3 linked regions of the Homo sapiens genome follow. The protein of the gene in region 1 interacts with the protein of each later gene in a pairwise test. Each region holds a gene or a part of one and is shown in the gene's direction. Other genes may lie near its edges.

Evidence for each region.
Region 2: the proteins of CAMLG (region 1) and TNFRSF13B interact in a two-hybrid assay, tested with the Homo sapiens proteins (one study listed by BioGRID).
Region 3: the proteins of CAMLG (region 1) and KCNE4 interact in binary tests that used the Homo sapiens proteins (3 or more experiments, as listed by UniProt).

What each region holds. Positions count from the first base shown.
Region 1 is NC_000005.10:134,741,548-134,750,108, forward strand, and holds part of CAMLG (guided entry of tail-anchored proteins factor CAMLG), read left to right. Parts: intron 1-2,439; coding exon 2,440-2,505; intron 2,506-8,561. UniProt on the Homo sapiens protein: Required for the post-translational delivery of tail-anchored (TA) proteins to the endoplasmic reticulum.
Region 2 is NC_000017.11:16,936,394-16,943,946, reverse strand, and holds the end of TNFRSF13B (tumor necrosis factor receptor superfamily member 13B), read left to right. Parts: intron 1-3,435; coding exon 3,436-3,621; intron 3,622-4,149; coding exon 4,150-4,400; 3' UTR 4,401-4,866; downstream 4,867-7,553. UniProt on the Homo sapiens protein: Receptor for TNFSF13/APRIL and TNFSF13B/TALL1/BAFF/BLYS that binds both ligands with similar high affinity. Mediates calcineurin-dependent activation of NF-AT, as well as activation of NF-kappa-B and AP-1.
Region 3 is NC_000002.12:223,045,050-223,057,885, forward strand, and holds KCNE4 (potassium voltage-gated channel subfamily E member 4), read left to right. Parts: upstream 1-7,140; 5' UTR 7,141-7,225; intron 7,226-7,758; 5' UTR 7,759-7,781; coding exon 7,782-8,294; 3' UTR 8,295-10,588; downstream 10,589-12,836. UniProt on the Homo sapiens protein: Ancillary protein that functions as a regulatory subunit of the voltage-gated potassium (Kv) channel complex composed of pore-forming and potassium-conducting alpha subunits and of regulatory beta subunits.

The sequences.
Region 1 (8,561 bases):
AACTAACTTAATGGAAAATGCAAAATGTTAATAATTATGAGTGCTTTTGATCATAGAAGTCATTGCCAGTATTAATATCTACCAGATCCATGTGGCTGTTTGAAGATATATTATTAACTTTGCTATTCATCTCATAGAATGAAGTGTTCTGGTTAAATACAGAGCCTAATAATTACTGTTGGCCCTCCATATCAGTTGGTTCTGCACCCTATGTGGATTCAACCAATTGTGGATTGAAAATATTTGGATTTAGCCGGGCGTGGTGGTGCACGCCTGTAATCCCAGTTACTTGGGAGGCTGAGGCAGGAGAATCGCTTGAACCCGGGAGGTGGAGGTTGCAGTGAGCCAGGATAACGGCACTGCACTCCAGCCTGGGTGACAGAGTGAGACCCCGTCTCAAAAATATATGTATGTGTATATATTTGGGGGAAAAATAACAATACAACAATAACAAATAGTAAATAATACAAATAAAAACAGTATAACAACTATTTACATTGCATTAGGCATAAAAAATCTAGAAATGATTTAAAGTATATGGGAGGAAGTGAGTAGGTTATATTTACTGTGCCGTTTTACATAAGGGACTTGAGCATCTATGGATTTTGGTATCAGGAGGAACCTGGTACCAGTCCTCTGCTGATACTGAGGGATGACTGTACTAAAACCCATTTTTCATTCTACGGACCTTTCTCATTGTTTTGCATACATTAATTCATCTAATCCTCATTCTTATGAACTTGGTATTATGTGAATCCATTGGGAAATGAAGACTCAGAGAGGTTAAACCATTTGCCCAAGGTCACACAGCTACTAAGCGGTGCTAGGATTAAACCCTGGCAGTTTCAGTCCTTAACCAAAGGGTTAAGTGCTTTACATATATATACTGTATATTATCAATTTTCAAATAATTTGAAATAGTAAAATGCAGTTCCTCTGGTCCTGAATATGAGGTAATCTTCCTATGGTTCAGAAGACATTTCAGCATTTCCTAATATATCATAATGAGTCCATTTTGGTTGTACCATGATGTAGTCATTTTGTTTTATAGTATATTAAAGAATGCAGAAAAGCATAGCTCATAGTTCAGTGTCTTGCTCTGAGGTTTTTCCATTCAGTAGACATTTTAAGTATATGTACCAGGCACATAAATATCCAGATAATTAAAGTTTATATCATTAAGCAAAACAGTTTTTGTAAATCTTTTTTTTTTTGAGGTGGAGTTTCTTTCGCCAGGCTGGAGTGCAGTGATGTGATCTTGGCTCACTGCAACCTCCACCTCCTGGGTTCAAGCGATTCTCCTGCCTTAGCCTCCCGAGTAGCTGGGACTACAGGCATGTGCCAACACGCACGGCTAATTTTTTGTATTTTTAGTAGAGATGGGGTTTCACCGTGTTAGCCAGGATGGTCTCCATCTCCTGACCTCATGATCCACCCAACTCTGCCTCCCAAAGTGCTGGGATTACAGGCATGAGCCGCCGCACCCAGCCAAGCATTTAGTTTTGTTGTTGTTGTTGTTTTAGAGATAGGATCTTGCTATGGTGTCCAGGCTGGACTAGAACTTCTGGGCTCAAGCAGTCCTCCTGCCTCAGCCTTCTGCATAGCTGGAAGAATGCCACGTATTTTGAGTGCTGGGCCTTTTCTGTATGCTTCCTGGATATCAATTAATTCCCTCTGGGTGACCGAGATGTTACCGCATCTGTGTTACTGTGTTAAACATCTGTCACCATTTAATACTTTAAATAATTTAAAAGATAAGTTTTTATGAGAGAAGACAGTTTTGGGGACGCTAAAAGAATATGAAAGAATTGTATGACTTGAGAAACATATTTTATGTTAGGAAATCAAATATTTTATTTTCTTCACCCTTCTGCAGAAAAAAGATTACTTTTAACCATTAAAATTACTATTTTATGGGAGGCTGAGGCAGGAGAATTGCTTGGACTGGGGAGGCAGGGGTTGCAGTGAGCTGAGATTGAGCCACTGCACTCCAGCCTGGGTGACAGAGCGAGACTCCATCTTAAAAAAAAAAAGCAATTGCCAGGCGCGGTGTCTCATACCTGTAATCCCAGCATGTTGGGAGGCCGAGGTGGGTGGATCACGAGGTCAGGAGTTCTAGACCATACTGGCCAACATGGTGAAACCCTGTCTCTACTAAAAATACAAAAATTAGCCAGGTGTGGTGGCGGGCGCCTGTAATCCCATCTACTCAGAAGGCTGAGGCACGAGCATCGCTTGAATCTGGGAGGTGGATGTTGCCATGAACCAAGATCGTGCCACTGCACTCAGCCTGGGTGACAGAGGAAGACTCCGTCTCAAAAAATAATAATAACAACATTTTCTTACAGCTTTTGCTTGGAATTTTCTAGCTGCTGTTTGATTTATTGTGATTTGAATGATTATGTTGGAAATATTTAATTTTATCTTCTATCTTCACAGTCCATATTTGCTCCATTTCTTACTTTACAACTTGCGTACATGGGATTATACAAATATTTTCCCAAGGTAAATTAATTTTTTTTCTAAATTTCGATGATGTGTTTGGATTGATTTATGACTAGCTAATTGAAGGAACTTAAAAATGTTAGTCCTGCTTACGGTCTGAATCAGTGCTACTCAAAGTGTGGTTTGCCCACTTATCTCCAAACTATGTGTTTGTGTTTGTTATACATTAAGTTCAAAAAATGAGTAATTGGCCGGGCGCAGTGGCTCACGCCTGTAATCCCCACACTCTAAGAGGCTGAGGTGGGTGGATCACCTGAGGTCAGGAGTTCAAGACCAGCCTGGCCAACATGGTGCAACCCCATCTCTGCTAAAAATACAAAAATTAGCCAGGTATGGTGACGCACACCTGTAATTCCAGCTACTCAGGAGGCTGAGGCAGGAGAGTTGCTCCAACCCAGGAGGCAGAGGTTGCAGTGAGCCAAGATTGCGCCACTGCACTGCTCCAGTCTGGGTGACAGAGTGAGACTCTGTCTCCAAAAAAAAAAAAAAAAAAAGAGTAATTAGAAACTTTTATAGCAATTTGACATTGCCATAACATTGTTATTCTGTTTTACAAAAATACTGTGGATTGAGGTCCTTCATGAAAAAGTGTGAATAGTACTTGTTTAAGCAAAGTATTAAATTTAATTAGTAAATTTAGTAATTCATTTTGTCTATAATAAAGGAAATTAATTAAAAAATGGATTTGATTATCTCATTGTACTTCATATTGGACACTTAATAGCAGTGCACTTTATCTTCAGTGTTGAGGGCCTGATATTTGCAATAAATATTTGGCCAATATTACAGAACAGAATGATGTTGAGAGTCAATGTTTACCTGGCCTACTTGACTACAGATATATACAGTTTTATGAGGCTTGGCTTGCCTGACATAGACGATAGCCTAACTAGTGTGATCGAATTTTGTGGGAGCTTTTTGCTGAAAAAATTGCTACTTGGCTGTCTGCGTGTTATATTTAATGGGCTGACAGACCTGTGTATGATTTTAATGGATTTGAAGCATTTGTATTTTTGAAGGGTCAAATAGGTCAAATATAAGAAGTAAAAGAGTAAATAACATTGTAATTTTAATTAAGCATTTGTTTAGAAATTCACCTTTGAGGCGGGGCGCGGTGGCTCACGCCTGTAATCCCAGCACTTAGGGAGGCTGAGGCAGGTGGATCACGAGGTCAAGAGATCGAGAGCATCCTGGCTGACAGGGTGAAATCCCATCTCTACTAAAAATACAAAAGTTAGCCGGGCGTGGTGGCAGGCACCTGTAGTCCCAGCTACTCGGGAGGCTGAGGCAGGAGAATGGCGTGAACCTGGGAGGCGGAGCTTGCAGTGAGCCGAGATTGCGCCACTGTACTCCAGCAGCCTGGGCGACAGAGCGAGACTCCTCAAAAAAAAAAAAAAAAGAAAGAAATTCACCTTTGAGGCTGGGCGCCGTGGCTCACGCCCTAATCCCAGCACTTTCGGAGGCTGAGGGGGGTGGATCACCTGAGGTCAGGAGCTCGAGACTGGCCTGGCCAACATGGCGAAACCCCATCTCTACTAAAAATATAAAAATTACCCAGGCATGGTTGCGGGTGCCTGTAATCCCAGCTACTTGGGAGGCTGAGGCAGGGAGAATCACTTGAAACTGGGAGGTGGAGGTTGCAGTGAGCCCAGACTGTGCCATTGCACTCCAGCCTGGGCAACAGAGCGAGACTGTCTCAAAAAAAAAAAAAGAAAATCACCTTTGAAACATTGATTGTAGTTTTGCAGTAGCAAAGTTTGGAACCTAAATGTCCACTGAGTGACTACATTAAAAAAAAAAAATTGGCCAGGCACGGTGGCTCATGCCTGTAATCCCAGCACTTTGGGAGGCCGAGGCGGGCGGATCAGCTGAGGTCGGGATTTCGAGACCAGCCTGACCAACATGGAGAAACCCCGTCTCTACTACAAATTCAAAATTAGCCAGGCATGGTGGCGCATGCCTGTAATCCCAGCTACTCAGGAGGCTGAGGCAGGGGAATCACTTGAACCCAGGAGGTGGAGGTTGTGGTGAGCCGAGATCGCACCATTGCACTTCAGCCTGGGCAACAAAGCAAAACTCCATCTCAAAAAAAAAAAAAAAAAAAAATTATAACGTATCTATTCAGAATGAAGATGCTCTCAATGTACTGACAATGGTAAGCTCTCCAAGAAATATTAAGAGAAAAAAAAACAAAATTCAGAATAGAATCTATAGAATCTATACTAATTTCTTTTTGAAAAGAAAAAATAATGTATTATTTGATTTTGCTTATATATGCATAAACAAACTGAAAGACTATACATGAAATTATTAACAATACTTATGTGTGTGATAGAGATGTATATATGGGTACTATGTAAATGGAAGAGAGAAAAGGGAGACTTTATATATTCTCCCAACAAAACAGCATTTTGTTATAGCAGGGTTTTTTTTGCTTGTTTGTTTTTGAGACAGAGTATCACTCTGTCGCCCAGGCTGAAGTGCAGTGGCACGATCTCAGCTCACTGCAGCCTCCGCCTCCTGTGTTCATTCTCCTGCCTCAGCCTGCCAAGTAGCTGTGACTACAGGTGTGAGTGACCACACCCACTTAATTTTTGTATTTTTAGTAGAGACGAGGTGTCACCGTGTTGGTCAGTCTGGTCTGGAACTCCCAGCCTCAGGTGATCTGCCCACCTGGGCCTTCCAAAGTGCTGGGATTACAGGTGTGAGCCACTGCACCTGGCCTGTTATAGCAGTTTTTAAACACAAAAGTTGGCCAGGCGTGGTGCCTCACGCCTGTAATCCCAGCACTTTGGAAGGCCATGGTGGGCAGATCACCTGAGGCTGGGAGTTCTTGACCAACCTGGCCAACATGGTGAAACGCTATGTCTGCTGAAAATACAAAAATTAGCTTGGCATGGTGGGTACAGACCTGTAATCCCAGCTACTCAGTGTCTGAGGCAGGAGAATTGCTGACCCGGTGGCAGAGGTTTACAGTGAGCCAAGACAGCGCCACTGCACTCCAGCCTGGGCGACAGAGCAAGACTCCATCTCAAAAATAAATAAACACAAAAGTTGAAAGAATTGTGCCGTGAACACCCATTTATATAATACCAACGACCTAGATTCTACAATTAACATCTTATTATATTATGTATCTATCAGGTTTTCTTTTATTTTTCAAACCCAAGATAATCTCTGTAAAGTTTTTCCATCAAATTTTTCTTGATGCATTTCAAAGTATGTTGTAGGTGTACACATCGGTATACCTCACCCCTCTTACATAACACTGACTTACAATTTACTGTTTTAAGGTTCTTTAGGTAATTTTTTTTTTTTGAGACGAGGCTTGCTCTGTCACCCAGGCTGGAGTGCCATCTCGGCTCACTGCAAGCTCCGCCTTCCGGGTTCACACCATTCTCCTACCTCAGCTTCCCAAGTAGCTGGGACTACAGGCGCCCGCCATCACGGCCGGCTAATTTTTTTTTGTATTTTTAGTAGAGACGGGGTTTCACCGTGTTAGCCAGGATGGTCTCGATCTCCTGACCTCATGATCCGCCTGCCTCGGCCCCCCAAAGTGCTGGGATTACAGGCATGAGCCACCATGCTCGGCATTTTTTTTTTTTTTTGAGACGGAGTCTCGCTCTGTCACCAGGCAGGAGTGCAGTGGCACAATCTTGGCTCACTGCAACCTCCACCTCCCAGGTTCAAGCGATTCTTCCACCTCAGCCTCCCGAATAGCGGGGACTACAGGCACACGCCACCAAGCCCAGCTAATTTTTGTAATTTTAGTAGAGACGGGGTTTCACCATGCTGACCAGGATGGTCTCTTTCTTTTTTTTTTTTTTTGAGATGGAGTCTTGCTCTTTCGCCAGGCTGGAGTGCAGTGGCGAGATCTCAGCTCACCACAACCTCCGCCTCCCAGGTTCAAGCGATTCCCCTGCCTCAGCCTCCCAAGTAGCTGGGATTACAGGCATGTGCCACCACACCTGGCTAATTTTTTTTGTATTTCAGTAGAGACGGGGTTTCACCATGTTGGCCAAGACAGCCTTGATCTCCTGACCTGATTATCTGCCCACCTCGGCCTCCTAAAGTGCTAGAATTAGCTGGTCTCTGGTCTCTATCTCTTGACCTTGTGATTCGCCCACCTCCGCTTCCCAAAGTGCTGGGATTACAGGTGTGAGCCACCGCACCTGGCTTTTAGGTAAAATTTTAAGGTAAAATTAGTTCTGAGGCCGGGTGCAGTGGTTCACACCTGTAATCCCAGCACTTTGGGAGGCCGAGATGGGCGGATCACCTGAAGTCAGGAGTTCAAGACCAGTGTGGCCAACATGGTGAAACCCCATCTCTACAAAAATTTGCCGGGCATGATGGTGGGTACCTATAATCCCAGCTACCGGGGAGGCTGAGGTGGGAGAATCGCTTGAACCCAGAAGGCGGAGGTTGCAGTGGGCCGAGATCCTGCCATTGCACTCCAGCCTGGTCGACAGAGCAAGACTACGTCTCAAACAAAAAAAATTAGTTCTAATATGAAGAGTAGGGTACCAGCGTAATTAATTGATTGCTTGAAATGCTTGTCTTAATTGTACCATTTAATACGTTTGTTATCCTATGAAACCCATACCTCTTTCAAGGTTTATAACTTCACTGTCACCCCAGGAGTTTCTTTCATGCTCCTTTCCAGGCAGTCCCAGTCCCTATACCCCAAAGAACTTTTTCCCACGATAGATTAGTTGTGTCTGGCATAGTAATCCATGTAAGTGGGATCATTCTTGATTTTACTTTTTTGTGCAAGCCTTCTTTATTCCGCATGATATTTTTGAGATTTATCCATGTTGTTGGATAAATCAGTAGTTAATTCCTTTTTTTTTCTTGGCTCAGTAATACTACATTGTATGACTATATCCATTTATCTAGTCTCCTATAGATGGACATCCTGGTTGTTTTCAGTTTTGGGGTTATTATGACTAAAACTAAGAGCTTTCTTGTATGAGGCTTTTTGTGAGCATAAGCTTTCATTTCTTTTAGGTAACTATAGGGTTTTTTTTTTTTTTCAGATGGAGCTTTGCTCTGTCACCCAGGCTGGAGTGCAGTGGCACGATCTCGGCTCACTGCAGCCTCTGCCTCCCAGATTCAAGCAATTCTCCTGCCTCAGGCTCCCAAGTAGCTTGGATTACAGGCATGTGCCACCACGCCTGGCTAATTTTTTTGTATTTTTAGTAGAGACGAGGTTTCACCATATTGGCCAGGCTGGTCTCGAACTCCTGACCTTGTGATCCACCCACCTCGACCTCCCAAAGTGCTGGGATTACAGGCATGAGCCGCTGCACCCGGCCAACTATAGGTTTTTATATTTAAAAATATTTTAAACCGTATGATTGGATTTTGTGATAATAAAGAAAAATTCAGCTTTTAATCTCTTAAAAAAATGAGACTAGAAAATTAATAAGTAAATGTTCTCTCTTCCACCAGAAGTATACTGAATTGTTCAGTGATACCCTATTGGATGTGTAATCAAGTGTGGATTCCTTTGCATAACAATTAGGGCCCTACATTCCTATAAGTCTGTGACAAATTACTCATTGTTCTCCAAGCATTCTTCTGCCTCTAACTTGTCCTGAGACTTAACGCTTCAAAAAACTTTCACTTCTGCCAGTCTAAATCCTGCTCTTCTTTGAAGGTCTGTTTTTAGTTGTTGTTTTTGGAGACGGGGGTCTCACTTTGTCATGTGGGCTGGAGTGCGGTGGTGCAGTCTCAGTTCAGTGCAGCCTCAACCTCTTAAGAGATCCTCCCACCTCAGCCTCCTGAGTAGATGGGACTACAGGCTCATGCTCAGCTAATTTTTGTATTTGTTGTAGAGACAGAGTCTCCCTATGTTGCCCAGAGTGGTCTTAAACTCCTAGGCTCAAGCCATCACCCAGCCTCGGCATCCCAAAGTGCTGGGATTAGAGGCATGAGCCACTGCACTTGGCCTGAAGGCCTGTTTTTAATTTTACTTCCTCTGAAGTCCTCCTTGTGCTTTATTTACATAAAACACTGGAGTAATTTATATCTCCTGTGAGCTCCTATGTCACACA
Region 2 (7,553 bases), on another chromosome or scaffold:
CTACTGCGACGACTCCAGGCCGACGCGAGGAGCTTCCTGCCCGGGCTCCGGGGCAGGTGCAGGGAGTGTGTGTGTCTCCCTGAGGGGAACAGGTGGCCCAGGCAGCCTGCCCTACTGGGTGGGGCTGCTCATCTGTCCGGCAGAAGACGAGGAAAAGCACCAAGGGCAGGACCCTGTCCCCCAACATGGGGGTTGCAGAGGACTGAGTTGGGAAGAGCAAGGATTCAGGGGCAGCTGGAGATGGCACTAGGAGGGACCAGATGCCAGATGACAGAGGGCCCTATGTGCCAGGCTGGGAGGCTGATGTCCTGCTGGGGGCAGGGGCAGCCATGGGAGAAGGGGGTCAGAGCAGGGCTGTGGGGAGAGCTCTCTGTTGCCCCTGGATGGTGGCGATAGCAGCAGGGGCCCTGTGAGAGGCTACTTCTGGCAATAATAGGAACCAGAGACCTGGGAGGGGGACAGAAGGACAGTGCATTGGCATGAGATTAGAACTGGAGGGAGAGGTGCTGGCATGTGATCAGCCATGGAACTGCTCAGCCTCTGTGTCCTGCAGACACTGGGGGTGCCCGTGACCCCTTCTGGGAATAAGGTCAGAACTAGGCCTCCTGGGCTTGTGGCTGCATCACTCCCATCTCTGCCTCTGTCTTCACATGGCTTCTCTCTCGTGCCTGTGTCTCTTCCCTTCTCTTCTTGTATAAGGACACTTGTCACTGGATCTGGACACTTGGCACCAGATCCTCATCTTCATGTTGTGACCCTGCGTGGCTCTGTGGGGAGGCAGGGTTCAGCTAGGCGGGTCTTCTGCTGCTCTTGCTTGGGGTCTGTCATGCAGATGGTGCTGGGGATAGAGCCATTGGAGGCTTGACTCTGATGCTGGGATATTCAGGCCTTGCTTCCCCTCCAGCTGATCTCAGGGCTTGCCCCTCTCCACTGGGACTCTCCAGTTGGACTTCTCGAGTGGTAGCTCAGGCCCAAGGGAGCAAACACCGAGGCTGTCAGGCCTTCTTGAGGCAGAGGCCTGGAGTGGCACAACCTCGCCCCCATGGCACTCTCCTGGATAGGATGAGGCCCAGTCCAGCCCAGAAGGTCCACAGGGCATGATGTCAGGTGACTGTGCTCTGGGTGTGGTCTCTGAACACTTGCATGGTCTCTGAAAGCTGGGTTTCAGAATCTTATGATGAAATGTTTGAAATATGCACAAATGTTTAGTTTTCCTCCTTGAATCAACGCCGTTCATTTCCGCTTAGTAACAACCTGTAGCCTGGCATTCTGTCTGTGCTCTGAGGGCTGGTAGCGTCTCCCCTGCTCATGCCTCCAGGGCAGTGTTTGCATTTGATTTGAGAGGTGAATAGGAGCAGGTAAGCCTTGGATATGTGGCACCAAGTTTGCAGGTCCTGGGGTCTTTGCTTTCCTCCGTTAGGCCTCTCTGAGCTCTGGGCACTGGACAGAAGGACAGCCACTGACTGGCGGAGTGACACGAACTCACCCCAAGTTCCCATCTCCCCCCTGTAAATGTCAGAGTGACACTGATGACCCCTAAGAGTCCTGGCAGCTCTGTCACTTTATGAGATTCCTGAATCTAAAAGCGTGTGTGAGGAAGACGGGCAGTGCCAGCCCTGGGGCCGCTGTGTGGCCCGCGGGCTTGGAGCACCGGCCTGGGAATTGGTGAGACCGGCTCCCGGGTGCAGGTCTAAGACCGAGAACAATATCTTAGACACTCAGTTTTGTCATCTGTAAAATGGAGTGTGAACGGCAGATGCTGTGCAACGCAGTCCAGCAGGTCCTCAAAAAACAAAACAGAGCTATTATGTGACCCAGCCATTCTTCTCCTAGGTATACACCCAAGAAAATGGAAAACATCCATCCACACAAACATGTGGATGTGAATGTTCACAGCAACGTCATTCACAATAGCCAGAAAGTGGAAGCAACCCAAATGCCCATTCCCTGTTGAATGCGTAAACAGATGTGGTCTGTCCATTCCGCCTAAAGAGAAACGAAGGTCTAATACACAGCACGGCAGGACATGGTGGACCTTGAAAACTCAAAGCCAAGTGCAAGGAGCCAGGCATAAAAGACCACGTGTTGTATGATTTCATTAATATGAAATGTCTGGAATAGGCAAATCCACAGAGACAGAAAAGAGATGAACAGTTGCCAGGGGCTGGGAAGAGGGAATGGGGAGTGACTGCTGATGAGACAGGGTTTCTGTTTGGTGATAAAAATTGTCTCCAATTAGACAGTTGCCATTGCTGCACAACCTTGTGATGTGCTAAAAGCCACTGGTTGTACACTTTAATACAGCAAATTTGATGGTATACAAATTCTCAGTATTTTTAATGGGGGTAGTTGTCTGCCATCAGAGCGGGAAGATGAAGGGGGTGCTGTAGGGGAAGTGCCCGGCACGAAGTGGGACTCGCTCTTCTTGACGTGTCATCTTAAATCTGGCTCATCTGTCTTTCCACCCAGCGCCTAGAGGATGCCCAGCTCCAGGGACAAGGAAGAGCTTTTGGGATAAGGAGAACTTCCAAGGGGAGGGCTTTCACCTGGGCTGAGTCTGTCTCTGGCATCCAAACCTGGAGGCACAAGTCCTGAGTCATAGGGTGGCCAGGTGCCCTGATGCCCAAAGCCCTCCTGGTTGGCACCTGCTGTCCTGGTCTCAGTGTAACGTCGCCTGTCCTACTCTCAAACACAGTGGGCCCTCTGTGTCGTGCGACCCATGTCTGTGGATTCAACCAACAGCAGCTGGAAAATACTCAGAAAAGATAGGGGATAGTTGCATCTGTACTGAACCTCTGCAGCCATTTTTTCTCATTGTTATCCCTAAACAATACAGTATAACACCCTTCTACATGGCATCTATATTGTATTTGGTATTATAAGTAATCTAGAGATGACTCTAATTGTATAGGAGGATGTGCATAGGTTATATGCAAATGCCAGGCCGTCTTGTATCAGGCACTTGGACATCCGCGGATTTTGGTATCTGTAGGGGATCCTGGAACCAGTCCCCCATGGATACCAAGGGACGACTGTAAACGCTCACTCAGGAAGCTTTCTCCTTGGAGGAAGGGCCCAGTTCAGGATGCACAGAGACATGCTCCCTGGAGCATCGTCTGTTCGTCTGTCGATTCACCCATCAGCCCATCTCCAGCGCTGTCCCAATTACAGCCCTAGCAAGTGGAGACAACAAGAAGGCCTAGCTCACGTTTCCAGCTTTGAGGCCTTAGAAAGTTGCTGCCAGGATGGGGGAGTGGATCAACTTCCTCCAGGATCCAGAGAGCATCCCAGCAGCCTCAGGGTCAGAAAAGGAGCCCAGCCTCTCCAGGAGCCAGACAGGCTCACAGCAGGGGGATGGGGGGATGTGGATTGCTTGAGCCTAATGACGGGAAGAGAAGAAGGCACTGCAGAGAGGGGTCTCATGCTGTCTTGCAGCTCTCCCGGGGCTGAAGCTGAGTGCAGATCAGGTGGCCCTGGTCTACAGCACGCTGGGGCTCTGCCTGTGTGCCGTCCTCTGCTGCTTCCTGGTGGCGGTGGCCTGCTTCCTCAAGAAGAGGGGGGATCCCTGCTCCTGCCAGCCCCGCTCAAGGCCCCGTCAAAGTCCGGCCAAGTCTTCCCAGGGTGAGTGCATGAAACTGGGGTCCTCGCCCTTCTCGCTGCTTGGGTGACAAGCCTCGGGCCATCCCTCGGTCCTGTCACTGCCCCTGCTTCTAGGTGGAGAGGCCCAGGGCTCATCCCTGTTACTTGCTATACCTTGATAAAATCAGGTTAAGACATCCTGGCAGACAGATAACTGGGAGAGTGGCACCCGGGAAGGGTGGGTGTGGGGTGCCGGTCTTCAGGTTTGCCTGGGCCCAGGATTCTCCAGATGCAGAGCCTTCAGGGCTAAGCCCAGGAGGAGGTGTCCCCTTGGGGGGCGTGGCAGGCTCGGTGCTGGACAGAAGTGAGAGCCAAGAATTGCCTGCCCACCCCTGCCCCGGCACAGGTTCTGGTCAGCAACTGGCGGACACTGACACCTGTCTGGGGGCGTTCTACGCTGGTGATTGCCCTTAGCTCCTGGGTCGGGGGAGAGTGCGGCTGCCCACACCGTCACCCCTACCCTAGTGCAGGGCCAGGCCTGGCCCACGCCCTCCACTCTCGCCTCTGCAGATCACGCGATGGAAGCCGGCAGCCCTGTGAGCACATCCCCCGAGCCAGTGGAGACCTGCAGCTTCTGCTTCCCTGAGTGCAGGGCGCCCACGCAGGAGAGCGCAGTCACGCCTGGGACCCCCGACCCCACTTGTGCTGGAAGGTGGGGGTGCCACACCAGGACCACAGTCCTGCAGCCTTGCCCACACATCCCAGACAGTGGCCTTGGCATTGTGTGTGTGCCTGCCCAGGAGGGGGGCCCAGGTGCATAAATGGGGGTCAGGGAGGGAAAGGAGGAGGGAGAGAGATGGAGAGGAGGGGAGAGAGAAAGAGAGGTGGGGAGAGGGGAGAGAGATATGAGGAGAGAGAGACAGAGGAGGCAGAGAGGGAGAGAAACAGAGGAGACAGAGAGGGAGAGAGAGACAGAGGGAGAGAGAGACAGAGGGGAAGAGAGGCAGAGAGGGAAAGAGGCAGAGAAGGAAAGAGACAGGCAGAGAAGGAGAGAGGCAGAGAGGGAGAGAGGCAGAGAGGGAGAGAGGCAGAGAGACAGAGAGGGAGAGAGGGACAGAGAGAGATAGAGCAGGAGGTCGGGGCACTCTGAGTCCCAGTTCCCAGTGCAGCTGTAGGTCGTCATCACCTAACCACACGTGCAATAAAGTCCTCGTGCCTGCTGCTCACAGCCCCCGAGAGCCCCTCCTCCTGGAGAATAAAACCTTTGGCAGCTGCCCTTCCTCACTGCATTGTGGTTGGGTCTTTGATGAACTGAGACATCTTGTCTATCACTTTCCTGGGCATCAGGCTCCACTGAACGCTGCCCCCTTGGTTTGGGAGGCCCTGTGGTGCCCCCATCTCACCAGGCTCTCGAGGAAGCTTGTGACCTTGGGTTGAGCCCTAAGCAGCCGGGTACCCACTGGGGCTCTGCTTCTCTCTTTCACTAAGAGAGAGAAAGAGACCAAAGAAAGGTCTGCAGGGAGGGTGCCTGTGCAAACACCCAGGGAACCAGGGGCTTGAGCCATCTTCATTTCCTTACAGACACACATTCCCTTCCATGCCTCCTTAGTAAGGGCATGACGCACAGTGTGTGTGTGTGTGTGTGTGTGTGTGTGTGCAGGTGTGTGCATGCATATGTGTGTGCATGTATGCGTGTGCATGTACGTATATGTGTGTGCGTGTGGATGTCTGTGCATGTATGTATGTATATGTGTGTGTGTTGTGGGGATGTGCAGTGGACAGGAAGGGGAGGGCAGCTGTAGCTGAAAGCTGCGAGTCTCTCTGGAAAAAACATCAAGATTCCCTGGACCACAGCAAGAGAATGTTTTCATTTGAGTCCACTTTTTGTTAGCATTTAAAGCTATATCTTGAGTAGCATGTAAACCTTAAGTAAACTATTCTTAGAAGCATTTTCACAGTAAGATAAATCCATAATAATGTACATTGAAATTATGCACCCTGCACCTCCTAAAATTATCTTGCAAACCTGCACCCACCAAAGGATCCCGTAGCGCACTTTGGGAGGTGTAGACAGGAAGCCTGGGGCTCCGTCGCTCATTCCATCTTTTCACCAGCTGTGGGCTACCACGCTGCATTGGTTTGCTTGGGCTTCCTTAAAGTACCACAGACTGGGCAGCTTCAGCAACAGAATCTCACTGTCTCACAGTCCTGCAGGCTGTAGGTCCAAGATCAAGGTGTCGGCAGGGAAGGTCCCTTTTCAGGGCGGTGCGGGAAGGCTCTGTTCCAGGCCTCTCTCCTGGCAGGTAGGTGGCCTTCCCGGTGTCTCTTCACCTCGTCTTCCCTCTGTGTGTCTCTGTCCACATTTCCTTTTCTTATAATAACGACACCAGTAGTTAGATTGGGGGCCCCCCTACTGACCTCATTTTTCATTTTAACTTATTTCTATAAGATGATATCTGTAAATAAGATCACATTCTCAAGCACTGGGGCTTAGGACATCAACACAGGAATTTCGGGGGACAAATTCAACCCATCACACAGGCCGTCCTCGAGGCCACCTCTGCGTCATCTTTGTCTACAGGCAAGTTGGCATCTAAAAAGTGTCTGCCCAAGACATGCGTCTGGCCCATGGTACAGCCAGTCCACACGGCCAATGGTGAGATCCGGGTGGCATTGTTTCCTCACCGCCATGCCTCACGCAAGCAGCTGCCTTCTTACAACAAGGTGGACACAAATCCCAGAACTGGCGCAGACGCTTGCTGGCTGTGGGTGAAGTAGCCCCACGTCAGCGTCCTGCAAATATGCGGCTTAGAATGTTACGGCTTGTGTGAAAGATATGCAGATTTCTATTCCTTCCGATCCATGGTTTCAAGTTCTGCTCGTCTGAACCCAAGGGGCTCTGTAGGTGCCTCTGGAACAGCCGGGGTTTTAGGGGTGTTGAAAACACAAGGTACCCAGGCTCAACCCCAGCTTCAATCACACAAATAATCTTGTGGTGGTGTTTCTTTGGTCAGTTTTTAAAATTGATCTTTTGTACTCTTTTTTTTTTTTAGAAAGGGATCCTTTGGTAGAAAGAAAATCTGAAACTCTAAATACTGTCCATTTTATCTATGTATTGTTGGTCCTTTCCCCAAAATATATCCTGATTCCAGCCACTTGTCATGATAGTTTTAATCTGAGCTCTCATCGTTTTTCACCTGGATTACTGTACCAGCCTCCCCACTGGCCTCCCCGCTGCCACCTGGCCCCTCCCCAGGGCTCAGCAAGATTTTTCTGCAAAGGACCTGGTAGTAAGCATCTTGGGCTTCGTGGACCCTGTGGTCTTTGTTGCACCTACTCAGCAGTTACTCAGCTTCGCCACTGCAGCCCTAAGTAGCCACAGACAAGAAGTGAACACAGGGGAGGAACTGTGGCTCCAATAAACCTTTATTCACCATGACAGGAGGGGACTGCATCTGGATTGTGGGCCATAGTTTGCCAACCCCTGCCTGACTTCATGGCAACACTGAAATTCGTATTTATGCTTCTTAAAAACATGTCTAAGCCAAGTGCAGTGGCTCATCCCTGTAATCCCAACACTTCCAGCTGAGCCTGGAGGATTGCTTGGGGACAGGAGGTCCAGATCAGCCTGGGTAACACAGCAGGATCCCATTTCTACAACAAACCATTTCAAAAGCAGCCAGGCATGGGGGCCCACACATGTAGTCCCAGCTACTCAGGAGACTGAGGTGGGAGGATTGCTTGAGCCTGGGAAGTCAAGGCTGTATAGTGAGCTGTGTTTGGGCCACTGCACTTCAGCCTGGGCGACAGAGTGAGACCTCCTCTCTCTCTATTATATATATATACATACACACATATATATATCTGTATATATATATATATATGTGTGTGTGTGTGTGTGAGAGTGTGTGTGTAATGGTTGTCTGCAAGAAACACCTTTAATTAATCACAGCCAACCCTCAAATAATACGCAT
Region 3 (12,836 bases), on another chromosome or scaffold:
AAAAAAATCCTGGGAGCATGGGCATTCCTAACTCAGCAAGCTCTCCCCAGAGTTCTGGCCAGACATGGTTTCTTGCCCTTCAAATTTTTCTAGGTGTGGTTCTGATCCCAGTCCTCTGTGTCCAGCAGGTTACAGGCCACAGAGACCACTGAGACTCTCAAGTGATCTCTGTGAAGCACCCCCTCACTTCCCTTAACTTGAGAAGAAAGCAGCCCATTCCCCACATCTTCCCCAGGAAGGGGAAGAGAAAACATCAATGACTCTTTCTTAAAAATCCTCTACTTTTAATTTTTAAAAAACACTCTTCATGTGGGAAAGGGGCTCAAACCTTTTGTATTTTTGTCTTGGCGCTCAGTCTAAACAGAAGGTGCAATAGTGGATAATTCTATTTCTTCCTCACAACAACCTTATGAGATAGATACTCTTATGCCTCTTTAAGAGAGGCACAGAGAGGTTAAGAAATGTGCCCATGGTCACACAGCTAGTAGGAAGAACCAAGACAGGCCTAGGCAGCCTGACCACAGAGCCTGTGCCCTTAAACTATATGCTGTACCATCATCTGATCTGAGTTCCTGACACTTGGATTTGCCATCTGCGTACTTTTAAGCCCATCTTTTAAAACTACACTCACTGACATGTTGATTTGTCTTATTGCTTCTGGGAGTTCTGTGTCACCTTGTCAAAGTTTCAGGAATTACTCTAAGCACACCACTGATAGCTCTTGAGAAATGTGGTTGAGATACATTCAAGAGCTTTAGTTTAATTGTCTGGAACTCTTTTTTTTTATTTTTTATTTTTTATTTTTTTTTGAGACCGAATCTCACTCTGTGGCCCAGGCTGGAGTGCAGTGGTGCGATCTCCGCTCACTGCAAGCTCCGCCTCCCAGGTTCACGCCATTCTCCTGCCTCAGCCTCCCGAGTAGCTGGGACTACAGGCACCTGCCACTACACCTGGCTAATTTTTTTGCATTTTTTAAGTAGAGACGGGGTTTCACCGTATTAGTCGGGATGGTCTCGATCTCCTGACCTCGTGATCCGCCCACCTCGGACTCCCAAAGTGCTGGGATTATAGGCGTGGGCCACCGCGCCTGGCCTGTCTGGAACTCTTGATAAGAATCTTGGAAGCAAAGTCTGTGTTCCCACGGTTATTCACAAACACACTCATTAAGTCAGTCAACTCCTCACTCTGGTTTCCTTGGTGCTAACTGTGCACAGGCATGTATGCTCTTAGTTTGTTCTTTGCATGTGCTCAGCGATCATGCATTCAGTCAGTCCTGAATGATCACACACTCGCCCCAGGCCTTGGGGTTGTCTCCCCAGTTGGTACTTGAGCTCTTCAAAGCAGGAATCTATCTTTTACTTCCTTGGTCTCCTGTCCTCATGCTCCCAGGTGGCACATTTCTGGCCCATGCTGGCCTCTCCTGCTGCATCTTCTACCAGGTTCCTTTTTGTTCCTTGACAGAGTCCCCATAGACTTTTTAGTTCCTCATTCTTGCCATCTCTCTTCCCTCCCCACTTTCTTCCTCCGAAGGATCTTTCCACAGATTACCGTTGGCCAGAATTCTCTTACCTTCTCACTTCATCTGGGCTAATTCCTGCTCAATCTTCAGATCCCAACTCAAGGATCACTTCCTCTAGGGGGTCCTCCCTGATTTCTCTAAGGAATTCAATCCCCTTAATATTAACTTTCCTAGCATCCTTTCTCTTTTGCAATATTTGTCATTCTTGCAACTTTAAACACACAATTTTGGGATTCTTGTCTGCCTCCCTCACCAATGGTAAGGTCTATAGAGGCAGAGGCAATGTTTTTCTTCTCTCTTTTTTTTCTTTCCCTTCTCTTTTTTCAGCTCTGGGTTCCAATGCCAGCTCTGCCATGTACTAGCTGTGTGATCTGGGGCAGGCTGCTCCAGCATTCTCTGCTTCAGTTTCCTTATTGTATAATGGGGATAATAACAGAGCCTATCTCAAGGGCTTTTTATGAGAATTAAATAAGATAAACTTTGCAAAGTACTTACAGCAATTCCTGAGGCACTTTTAGGTACTATGCAAGTATTTGTTAAATAAATATCAGGTTAAAAATGCTTGAATAATACATAACAAAGGTGAATTAATACCAACTTCACTGTTAATTTTAGGAGTTCTGGTTCTTCCCTCTTAACCCCCTTTGGGTGATATCTAAGCAGGACCTGCTGATAGCCACATCCTCCACAGCATAGCTGGTGTTACAGGGAGGGCCTGGGGACCTTACTAAGGACCTGTCAGATATCCAGCCCTGTTTTATTTCTAGTGATAGGAATGCTAAAAAGTATGTGTCCAGGGAGGGTGACTCAGGGCATTAGAAGGGATGATCCACTGCTCGAGTTCCCAGACAGAACTTTTCAGACAGAATTTCTGGGAAAAGCAAAACCAGTGGTGGGCACTGAGGATTTCATTTTGCAATATTCTGCCAGACCCAAAGCCTGGTCTGCTCAGGAGGGGGACAGCCCAGTGGATTATGGGAGATTTCTCAGGATCCTGAGACAATTAATGATGCTACTTTTGACATGCCTGAGGGTGGCTAAAACTGAAACACAGAGCAATTATGCAACCCAGCCAGTCACGTAGCATCAGCAAGGCTGAGCTGGGTCAGATTTCTGGACTCCAGACTTACGTTTAATCCGATGAGATTCACAGCCATGCTGTTATCCCAGCATAGACTTTGTTTAGTCACAGAAGCTGTTAACATAATTTCAGAGATGTGTGGCCAGGGACTCCTGGGTCATCTGGTAAAAATGACGTTACCAGGAAATGAAAGTACTCAAAGCTCTAGAGAAAGTGTGTGTCAGGATCAAATAGGAAAAAACAAACAAACAAACAAACAAAAAAACCCACATTAAAACAAGAAGACCAGAACAGGCTTATGTTAGTCTGTTCTCACATCGCTAATAAAGACATACCTGAGACTGGGTAATTCATAAAGGAAAGAGGTTTCACTGACTCACAGTTCTGTATTGCTGGGAAGGCCTCAGGAAACTTACAGTCATGGCGGAAGGCAAAGGAGAAGCAGGTACCTTCTTTACAGGGTGGCAGGATGGAGTGCGTGCAAGCAAAGGAAATGCCAGACGCTTATAAAACCATCAGGTCTCGTGAGACTCAGTCACTATCATGAGAGCAGCATGGGGGAAACAGCCCCCATGATTCAATTACCTCCACCTGGTCCCACCTTTGACACGTGAGGATTACAATTCGAGGTGAGATTTGGGTGGGGACACAGAGCCAAACCATATCAGGCTGTATATGTAGGCAGAGAAACTACTGTACTATGGACAACATAGGTATACGGTAAGAGTATTACTGCTTCACTGATAACTTCTAGAACATGCTGAGGTTGGTGCAGCCTCCAGTACTTAAAATAATATGAATTCAGAAAAAGACAACTTGTAGTTCCACGTGTGTATTTATGTGTGAGTATCTAGTTATGTCAGAATTCACATTTTTTTTAAAAAAAAAGTTTTATGAAGACTCAAAAGAAGTTGGAAAAATGTCCATCTTTCACTTCCTACTCTTTCTCAGTTTCTTTTTGTTTTCCATTCAGTGAGACAAAAGGTAGTGGAAAAAGAATGGGTTTTGGAGTTGCATAGATCTGGGGTCAAGTACTGACTGTACTGCTAGTGATTTGACCTGGAGCAACTTTGCCTCTTTGACTCTTTGACTTTCAGTTTCCTTATCTATGAAATGGTTGTAATAATACCTGACCTCACAGGACTTATGTGTACTTGGTATATGATAGACACTAAGCTAGATTTGAACTGCAGTGTATCTTAGACTCATTTAAAATACAAGTTTAAAATGGATTTATCAAAACAGAATAATATCGATGCAAAGATAGACAGATAGATCAAAGGAACAGAATGAAGAGTTAAGAAATAGACCTGCTTATATAAGGTTAATTGATTTTCAACAAAGTTTCCAAGATAATTTTAAATAGGAAAAGGAGTCTTTTCAACAAATGATGCTGGAGCAATTGGACATCCATAAGCAAAACAAAAACAAACAACCCCTCCCCAAAATCCTTGACCTATATCTTACATTTTAGACTAAAATTAACTTGAAATGTATCATAGACCTAAATGTAAGGCTGAAACCATAAAACTTCTAGAAGCAAAACAGGAGAAAATCCTCATGACTGGGTTAAGCAAATATTTCTTTGATAGGATTCAAACAGCACAACCAAAAACATTTAAAATAAATTGGACTTCATCAGAATTAGATATGTTTGCTCCTGAAAAGACACTGTTCAGGAAATGGAAATGCTAGCCGAAATTGATTTATTTCTTTAACATTGCTGTCTCCTAAAACTGAGGCCCGGGGTAGATATAATTAATAATTCTTGTGCAGTCCCATCCTCTCCCGACAGAGTGCACTTTCTAGATGTACCCTCTCTCCCTCATTCTTTATGCCATTATTCAGTGCCATCATTCTCGCAATCCCTGTCATGAGTGAGGGCTGGGAAGAAGATTGAGCTATGCATTTTGAAGTTGGAATTCCCTTCTCTTAAATTCCATTCCTGGGAGTGACAGACAGGGGAAGGAGCAGTGATAAAAAGTCTGGAGTTAAAAGTCTGGAGATGGGCACACACATGACAGGAGGCAACCTGAAGCCCTTGGGAGCAACAGCGTACTCCTAACAATGACAACTAAACACAGGCACTGAGCATGTGCATTTGGCCAGACATGGTGCTTTCTTTGCATCATTTCATTGAACTATTTTATTCTGTTCTGTTCTATTCTATTCTATTCTATTCTATTCTATTCTATTTATTTAGAGATCTCGCTCTGTCACCCAGGCTGGAGTGTAGTGGCATGTTCAGACCTCATTGCAGCCTTGAACTCCTGGTCTCGAGTGATCCTCCCACCCCAGCCTCCCAAGTAGCTGGGACTACAGGCACTCGCCACCAGGCCTAGTTAATTTTTGTATTTTTTTGTAGAGATGGGGTCTCACTGTGTTGCCCACGCTGGTCTCAAACACCTGGGTTCAAGTGATTCATCCACCTCAGCCTCTTCAAGCATTGGGATTACTGAACTAAGACACTGCAGTTGGCCTCGTTTAACTCTAGTAGAAATATCCATGCAGGAAGTATGTGGGAATCGGGGCAGCAGGGACTCCAAGCAGGCACCCCAGAATTTCTTCTGGGCTGTTCCTTCCCTGACTCCTGCAATTAGTCCTGCTTTTCCTTTGGCTCTGACTTGCTTCGTCCTTTGGAATTCATTCTCGATGTTTCCCCACACTCATCTCTTTTCTTGGTTGTATTCCCTTGGGACTGTTGGCTCAGGTTTGGGGATTTATTATGTTTAAAACTTCAGCCTCTGTTTGGCTTCCTGGCACCAGGCTTTGTACTTCCTGCTCCTTGAATCTGGTAACTCCTATCCCCACCTCCTTTCTGCCTACTCAAAGCTTCCAGTCTTTGGTGTTGGACAATCCCTGGATGATGACCAATCTCGTATGTCCTAAGGTATACAATAAAAAATACCAGGGTCAACAATCAACAGGCATCTCTTTCTTGGGCCCATCTTGTTCTAGTGTCCCAGACATTCCAGTGTAGGCTTAGATATAGATGGAAGTGTTCTAGTGTTTATGATGGACACCTGTTGAAAAGACCAAGTCTACCATGGCTGAGGTAGCTATGGAGGGTTTTACGTATTAACACAATGGTGAGGGTATCTTTACTGGTGTGAGCACAGTTCCACTGTATGGATGATCGTGATGCTGGAGTGGTCGATGGTTGGTACCTCCAGTGCCAGCTGGGGATTTATGGATGAACACAGGTGAGTAGTCAAGTGGGAAAAATGGCAGCATTCAGTTCATCTTCCTATTCTTCCTCCAGGTGTCTTCTTAGAATCAGGATCAGGTGCAAACCCAGGGGGGTTCCTGTAGCAGCAGTGAAAATTCCAGTGCCTAAGCTATATATGTTCAAGCAGGTCAGGTGGATGTCGCATGCGTCAGTTTGACTACAGCAGAACCATGAGAGATGTTTCCTTTAGAGTTGGCCCACAAGACAGTCTGGCTGCAATCCACAGGCCACAGACAACTGGAGGGAGTGGATCTCTCCCAGTTTCCTTCCACTTAGCATGAAAGCCTCAGAATAAGCAGCCCAGGGAGCAGAGAGACTGACATTAAAGCCTGCAATTCCTCTTCCAATTTTGATCACAGCAGCCATTTAAACACAGGGTCTACCGAGGTTTAAAAAACTTGAACTGTGCTTAGTTGCACTCTGAAATAGTCCTGCTCCTCCCCTGACCTACGAGAGACAGCAAAGAGACGTGTCAATAGCCTCCGCATGAGGCTTCAGAGGAGCAGCTGTGTATGGCAGGACGGAACAAAACCTGCCCATAGTATCTTTTACGACAACATGTTTCCACTTAATGCAGACCACTGAAAAGAATGTGGGAGCTTTTAAAAAAAAATTATTATAAACATAGGTTTGTGACCTTGATGTGGAAGGCAGCTAGAATCTCTGCTTTTAGAGGGCTAAGCAACACCAGGCAGCCTTCAATCTTAGAAGGGTTAAGCTGAAAGGGTCTCAAAAGGTCACGTGGTTTATATAATCCTACCTGCAGAAGACCCCCCCCCCCGCCAGGCACAACGATTTTACAGACGAGGAATGTGAGGTGCGGAGAGGTTAAGGAAGGATTTATCTTATTTGCATAAGGAGTGGAAGAACTGAAACCGAAGCCCCAGTTCCTTGACTGTAAATCCCGCACTTGCTTCCAACTGTCTTTCATCCAGATTATGGGATTCAGCTGCCTCTGAAAACCTGTAGCCCAATAATGGTTATTCCCCAGGAGCCGCGCGAAGCATGAGCTAATTTTCAGTGAGCGCGGACTTTGGGGTAACGGTTCCAGCACAGCACATCCCTTTCTCCTCTTTTCACTCATCGTCACCGCTACCTGAAAACCCTGGCCGGGTGCTGGGGCTTGAGGAGCAGTTCCCACTTCCCAGTCTTTTTCACTTTTCACAGCTGCAAAGTTCAGGGAGTTGAACTGCAGTGCTTTCAGTTCACTGCTCACTCTGCCACGATCAATCTCTGTTGTAAATTTTCCTCCCAGAGCACGTGACGATGCACTTCTTGACTATATATCCCAACTGCAGCAGCGGAGTTGTCAGAGCGCAGAGCCGGACAGAGCAGAAGAACCCTCTTGGACTGGACGATTTGGGAATTCAAAACTTGGGACAAACTGTCAGCCTTGGTAAGTCAGCAAGGCTACACTTTGCTTTCAGAAACATTTGAAAGAGGGACATTTTTGCCAATTAATAGATGAATTTTTTTCCTTTATTTTCTTCCTGCTTTTCTTTGTTCTAAGGAAACATTGTTTTGAATTTAAAATAGTTTGGTTTTGGAAACACAATGTAAACTTTGTTTCTGCTCAGTTAAAATACGTTTCCCAGTTTTAAAGATACTATTTACTGTATGCTCCTGTCTTACATTGATTTTTTTTTTAATCAAAGTAATACTGCTCACTACAAACAGGACAAATGTGTACACTAAAAAAAAAAAAAAAAGTCCTTCTTACTTTTCCCAGTGAACCTTCCCGGGCTTCTCTCCCGTGCACTCCAAGCCCTCATAGCTCACTCTTGTCAGCTGTTTGGCGAACCCTCTTATGCTATTTCTTTCATGCACTTTTAAGCTTTTTTGGTATTGCAGTTCCACAAACCTCGTGCTCCCCCACCTCCCTGTGCCCAGGACCTGGGGGAGAGTTCTAACCTGCGGCTTTTTCCCCAGCCCCTGCTGTGGAGGCAGCCTCAATGCTGAAAATGGAGCCTCTGAACAGCACGCACCCCGGCACCGCCGCCTCCAGCAGCCCCCTGGAGTCCCGTGCGGCCGGCGGCGGCAGCGGCAATGGCAACGAGTACTTCTACATTCTGGTTGTCATGTCCTTCTACGGCATTTTCTTGATCGGAATCATGCTGGGCTACATGAAATCCAAGAGGCGGGAGAAGAAGTCCAGCCTCCTGCTGCTGTACAAAGACGAGGAGCGGCTCTGGGGGGAGGCCATGAAGCCGCTGCCTGTGGTGTCGGGCCTGAGGTCGGTGCAGGTGCCCCTGATGCTGAACATGCTGCAGGAGAGCGTGGCGCCCGCGCTGTCCTGCACCCTCTGTTCCATGGAAGGGGACAGCGTGAGCTCCGAGTCCTCCTCCCCGGACGTGCACCTCACCATTCAGGAGGAGGGGGCAGACGATGAGCTGGAGGAGACCTCGGAGACGCCCCTCAACGAGAGCAGCGAAGGGTCCTCGGAGAACATCCATCAGAATTCCTAGCACCCCCGGGACCCCTGCCGGTGGCTCCATCAGCCAGCAACCTTAGAGAGAGGAAAGACAGTTTTCAAGTGTCTGGTTTCACTTTCACAGTGCGGCTGCCACTTTGAAGAGACCCTTGGTAAACCCCTGATTCGGGGTGGGGTGGGGGACTAGGCTCAGCCGGAACCAGCACCTCCAAGGAGTCCGGGAGGTGCCTGTGGTTTGCACCCACCACTGAAAAAGCCGCGGAGATGCGCAGCGCGTACACTGACTTTGGGGCCTGGGTGTTGGGGTTCTGATCAGAATTTGGCGGGATGATATGTTTGCCATTTTCTCACTGGATGCCCTGGGTAGCTCCTGCAGGGTCTGCCTGTTCCCAGGGCTGCCGAATGCTTAGGACACGCTGAGAGACTAGTTGTGATTTGCTATTTTGCCTAGAGCTTTGTCCTTCTAGATCTGATTGGCTGTAAGTATCTCTACTGTGTACCTGTGGCATTCCTTCACAGTGGGTTACAAGCTTCTTTTGGATTAGAGGGGGATTTTTGATGGGAGAAAGCTGGAGATCTGAACCCAGCCCATTTGCACACTATAAGAAAAAAAAGTAACTTTTAAACCTGTTAACATTGGCCGGGGTTATAAGAGATGATCTTCTATTTTGACCTTTTGTCTAACTTATGACCTTGAACTCTGACCTGTGACCATGCAGCATCACATGATGGCATGACGTTCTTTGGATCAGAAGAGCTTCCCCAGAATCTAACCTGCACTCCCGATGGTGGTTCAGGAGACTCTTCCTGATCTTTCTAGAAGGGGTAAAGTGGGGTTGAACAAGGCCAAGCCGTTAGCTCTGCTGCTGCTCAGTTTCCCAGCCTAGTTTTCTGAGCTGGGAGAGGACATAATGTGGTATTTCGTCACGTAGCTGAGACCTAGAAGGGCATACTCAGGCGGAGATTGCACAAAGCTGGGCTCCAAGTTCTGTGCTTCCTGATCCCGAGCCCTGACACTCATTTGCTGTGTGGTCCCGGGCATGTCATCAAGAAGCTCGCTGTCTGCATGAGGCTCCCGACGATCTCCATCCCCAGGGGGTTGGGAGGATGTCTTTAGATTTTAGGACTCTGTGATAAATATTCCACAGCCTGGTGTGAGGAAGCTTGGACCAAATGCTTCCCCTTTGGCCGGTTAGTCTGAACAAGGATCTGCTGATTTAAAGGAGCAGTTGGAGATTCAGAACACATATAACTGGGGAATTCAGGGCAAGCTACCAACCCAGCCCTGCTGTAGTTTTCCCAGGACTGAAGGAAAGAGGCAGACACCACATTCTCCTCTGCAAAGTTCTCTGGAGAATGTGTGATGTTAACACTCCCAGCTAAGGGAAAGCAAAGTCTAAAGGAAAACACACAGGAATGCTTCCAATGTCTCCAAGTATTCCTGTGGTCAACAGTTTCGCAGATCCGTTAGGCCCTTAAAGACAAGGAGGAAGTAAAAGGTCAAATTTAAATCTATTTAAAAAAACTTTTAAAAAAATTATTTATTTATTATTATTTTTTATTTTTAAGACAGAATCTCGCTCTGTTGCCCAGGCTGGAGTGCAGTGGTGCAATCTTGGCTCACTGCAACCTCCACCTCCTGGGTTTCAGCGATTCTCCTGCCTCAGCCTCCTGAGTAGCTGGGATTACAGGCGCCTGCCACCACGCCCAGCTAATTTTTTGATTTTTAGTAGAGATGGGGTTTCGCCATTTTGGCCAGGCTGGTCTCAAACTCCTGGCCTTAAATGATCCTCCCACCTCGGCCTCCCAAAGTGCTGGGATTACAGGCATGAGCCACTGCACCCGGCCACTTTTTTTTTTTTTAAAGAAAAATGCTCTGCATGGATTGGAGACACAGCAATAACTACTGTTGCCATGGAAGGGTTAACAGTGTAGGAGCTGGTTTATCAGTCCGCTTTGACATACAGCTAAAGGAAATTTATGTTTGGGGGAAAAAGGCCCTCTGTTCACTTTAAAATTCAGTGTGGACTTATGCCAAAGGGGGCTGTTTAAGTTGAAAGAAGCCAAGTTAAGTTTGGCCTCTTGCCTGGAATCACTTGAATTCTGAAATTTCACTGCGACGGACATGTGCCTTGTCACATTTTCCATTGCTTAATCCTGAAGTTTGGTGCAAGTCTCTCTGCACCTATTAAAAAGTGATGTATATACTTCCTTCTTATTCTGTTGAGTTGTATAGAATTGTCTTTTGTATTTAACACTTTGTAATTTTCACAATATTTTTTAATTTAAATAAATAAACACATTTTTTCCCTCCTGGGAAGTCATGAATTCTTTGTTTGATTTTTCAATATAATTGTTAGTTTCGAAGACATCACAGATACGTTTCCCAAGACATCTCTGGATTTTGCTCCTCTCCCAAGTCAGTATCTCCTGAGGGCGTATCTTATTTCTGTCTGAACCATGGGGTGAATGAGGCTTGGCTTTTCATCCTTTGAAATGCTTTGTAATGAATGGAAAACAAGCTGCAGATGGTCTTACATGGACTTCTCTGTTTAAATATGGCAGCCCTGGAGTCTTTGGACTTTGAACATGCAGTGACAGGTCAACTGCTGCTAAGATGTTGCTCCAAGCTTGGTTGCAAGAAAACGTTTGACCTGTATGTTGGCTTGGCAAATATTATCCACACATGTGGCCCAGCAGCACCTGCTAATGGGCAAAGAGCTGCTGTATGAACAGCAACACAAACTTACCAACACAGTGAAGCACGACGTGTGGGGCTGGGGTTGACTCTCCTCCCTCTCCTGGTCTCCTTCAGACTGGGACTGATTCCAGCCCCTCCCACTTGGTCTGTCTGTATCTCTTGCCCACAGGCTGAGGCCGTGGCCAGCCTGCGGCAGCCTCTTCTTCATAATTTTATTTGCATGACCTGTTTTTGAATCAAGCAAATGGTAGGAAGCATCCTTACTTTTATGTTTCTCTGTTTCCTGTGAGATTGGCTTTTCTGTTTCAAGTAAGTGTTTCCCTTCAGTTCACTAGTAACTGTCTACCTAAAAAATTTACCTGGCAACAGTACAGTGGAGCCTGGATCCTTCCCAAACAATATCGAGGGCCCTGATCCATCAGTTGGTACTTTGATGATGTAAGATGAGAAGATTGCTGTAAAAGGCAAGAGAGCCTTTCCATTTGTCCCAGTTTAATGTCGTTCTTCGTAAGGAAATGGTTAAGAATTTTTCTATTTTTTTAAGCCATGGGTGGAAGGAGAGGGAATTCTAAACTCTAATTGTCCTAAAAATATGCAGAGTACACTTTGTCGTTTTAATGGGATATTTGTTTTCTTTAAAAAAAAAAAAGAATTTCTAAGCAGAACCTAAGGCCCAAGGGGTTTAGTCTGTGTGGATTTACTCATGCATGTGAAAAACTGAGAGGATAATTTGGCCCTGTGCACCTAAGATATTAAAAACATATTTTGAAAGCACTTAAATGTTAGGGATGAGGTAAATGGATCATCCTGCCTGCTCCACACTGTTCTAATTACACCTTTGTACGTCAGAGTCAGGCAGGGATGTTACACAGTAGAAGATTTCTTTCACTGGTAGAATCATGGGATCAAATCTACTGGGAAAGGCTGAAGTCAGGCCAAGGAATGAATGCTCTTGGCTCATGATTCTGGTTGGAAAGTGGACCCCCTGGTGCCTTTCAGAGCTGCAACTGGAGGGTTTCATGGTCAGACATGCACTTCTAGGATTCAGCTAAACGAGGGTAATTTATCATCCTGTAAAATGCTGCTCTGACCGTAGACATTGTGGAACAAACAGAACATTGAGCTTAAAATGTAACTTAAACTCCAGCTTCAGGCAGAGCATACTTTTGCCTCATGCCCTTTCCTTAAAGTCTGTGTACTGTGCTGAAGAAAATCACAGGACATATCATCGGTCATGGGACTAGAGGCAGAGTCTAGCGCTGGAGGGAGACCTGTCAGCCAGTTGGTCAGGATGGTGGCTCAGGCTACGCCTGAAACGCGGGGAGGTAGGGTGTAAATAGTGGCCAGTGGAGCCTCAGCCTTGTTATGTCTGGCTTTCTAGCCTAACTCTGCTACCATGTTGCTTGTAGCTCTGGGGAAGCTACCTAACCTTTCTGAGCTCTCTCTTTCAACAAGAAGACAGCATGCTGGCTTTTCTCTTTGGGGAGTTGTTCAAAGAACGGTGGAACGCCCTGAGAAATACTCAAAGAAAAGCAGATTCAGGCTTCTACTTTAAAAATGTGTCCTGGGCATGCATCTGCAAATAAAGTCACAAAACATCCTCTTCTATGGACGCTTTCCTCAGGAGACTGCTGTGTGCTCAGAAAAAGTGCACGCTTTGCCAAAGGAGAAGGGTCACAAGAGGGAAAAACCACTGTTAAATTCAGCCTTCCCCCATTTCTGAAATGTTTCCTCCCACACAGGAAGGAACAGTTTGGGATGTGTGCTGTTACCATGGAGATAACCAGCTAAGGTCACTTGATGGAAGGAGTCTGTGGCCCACTAGCATGGATCATTAGGGCCAATCTCGGGAGCTAAGGTTTTGTCCTTGGCTCA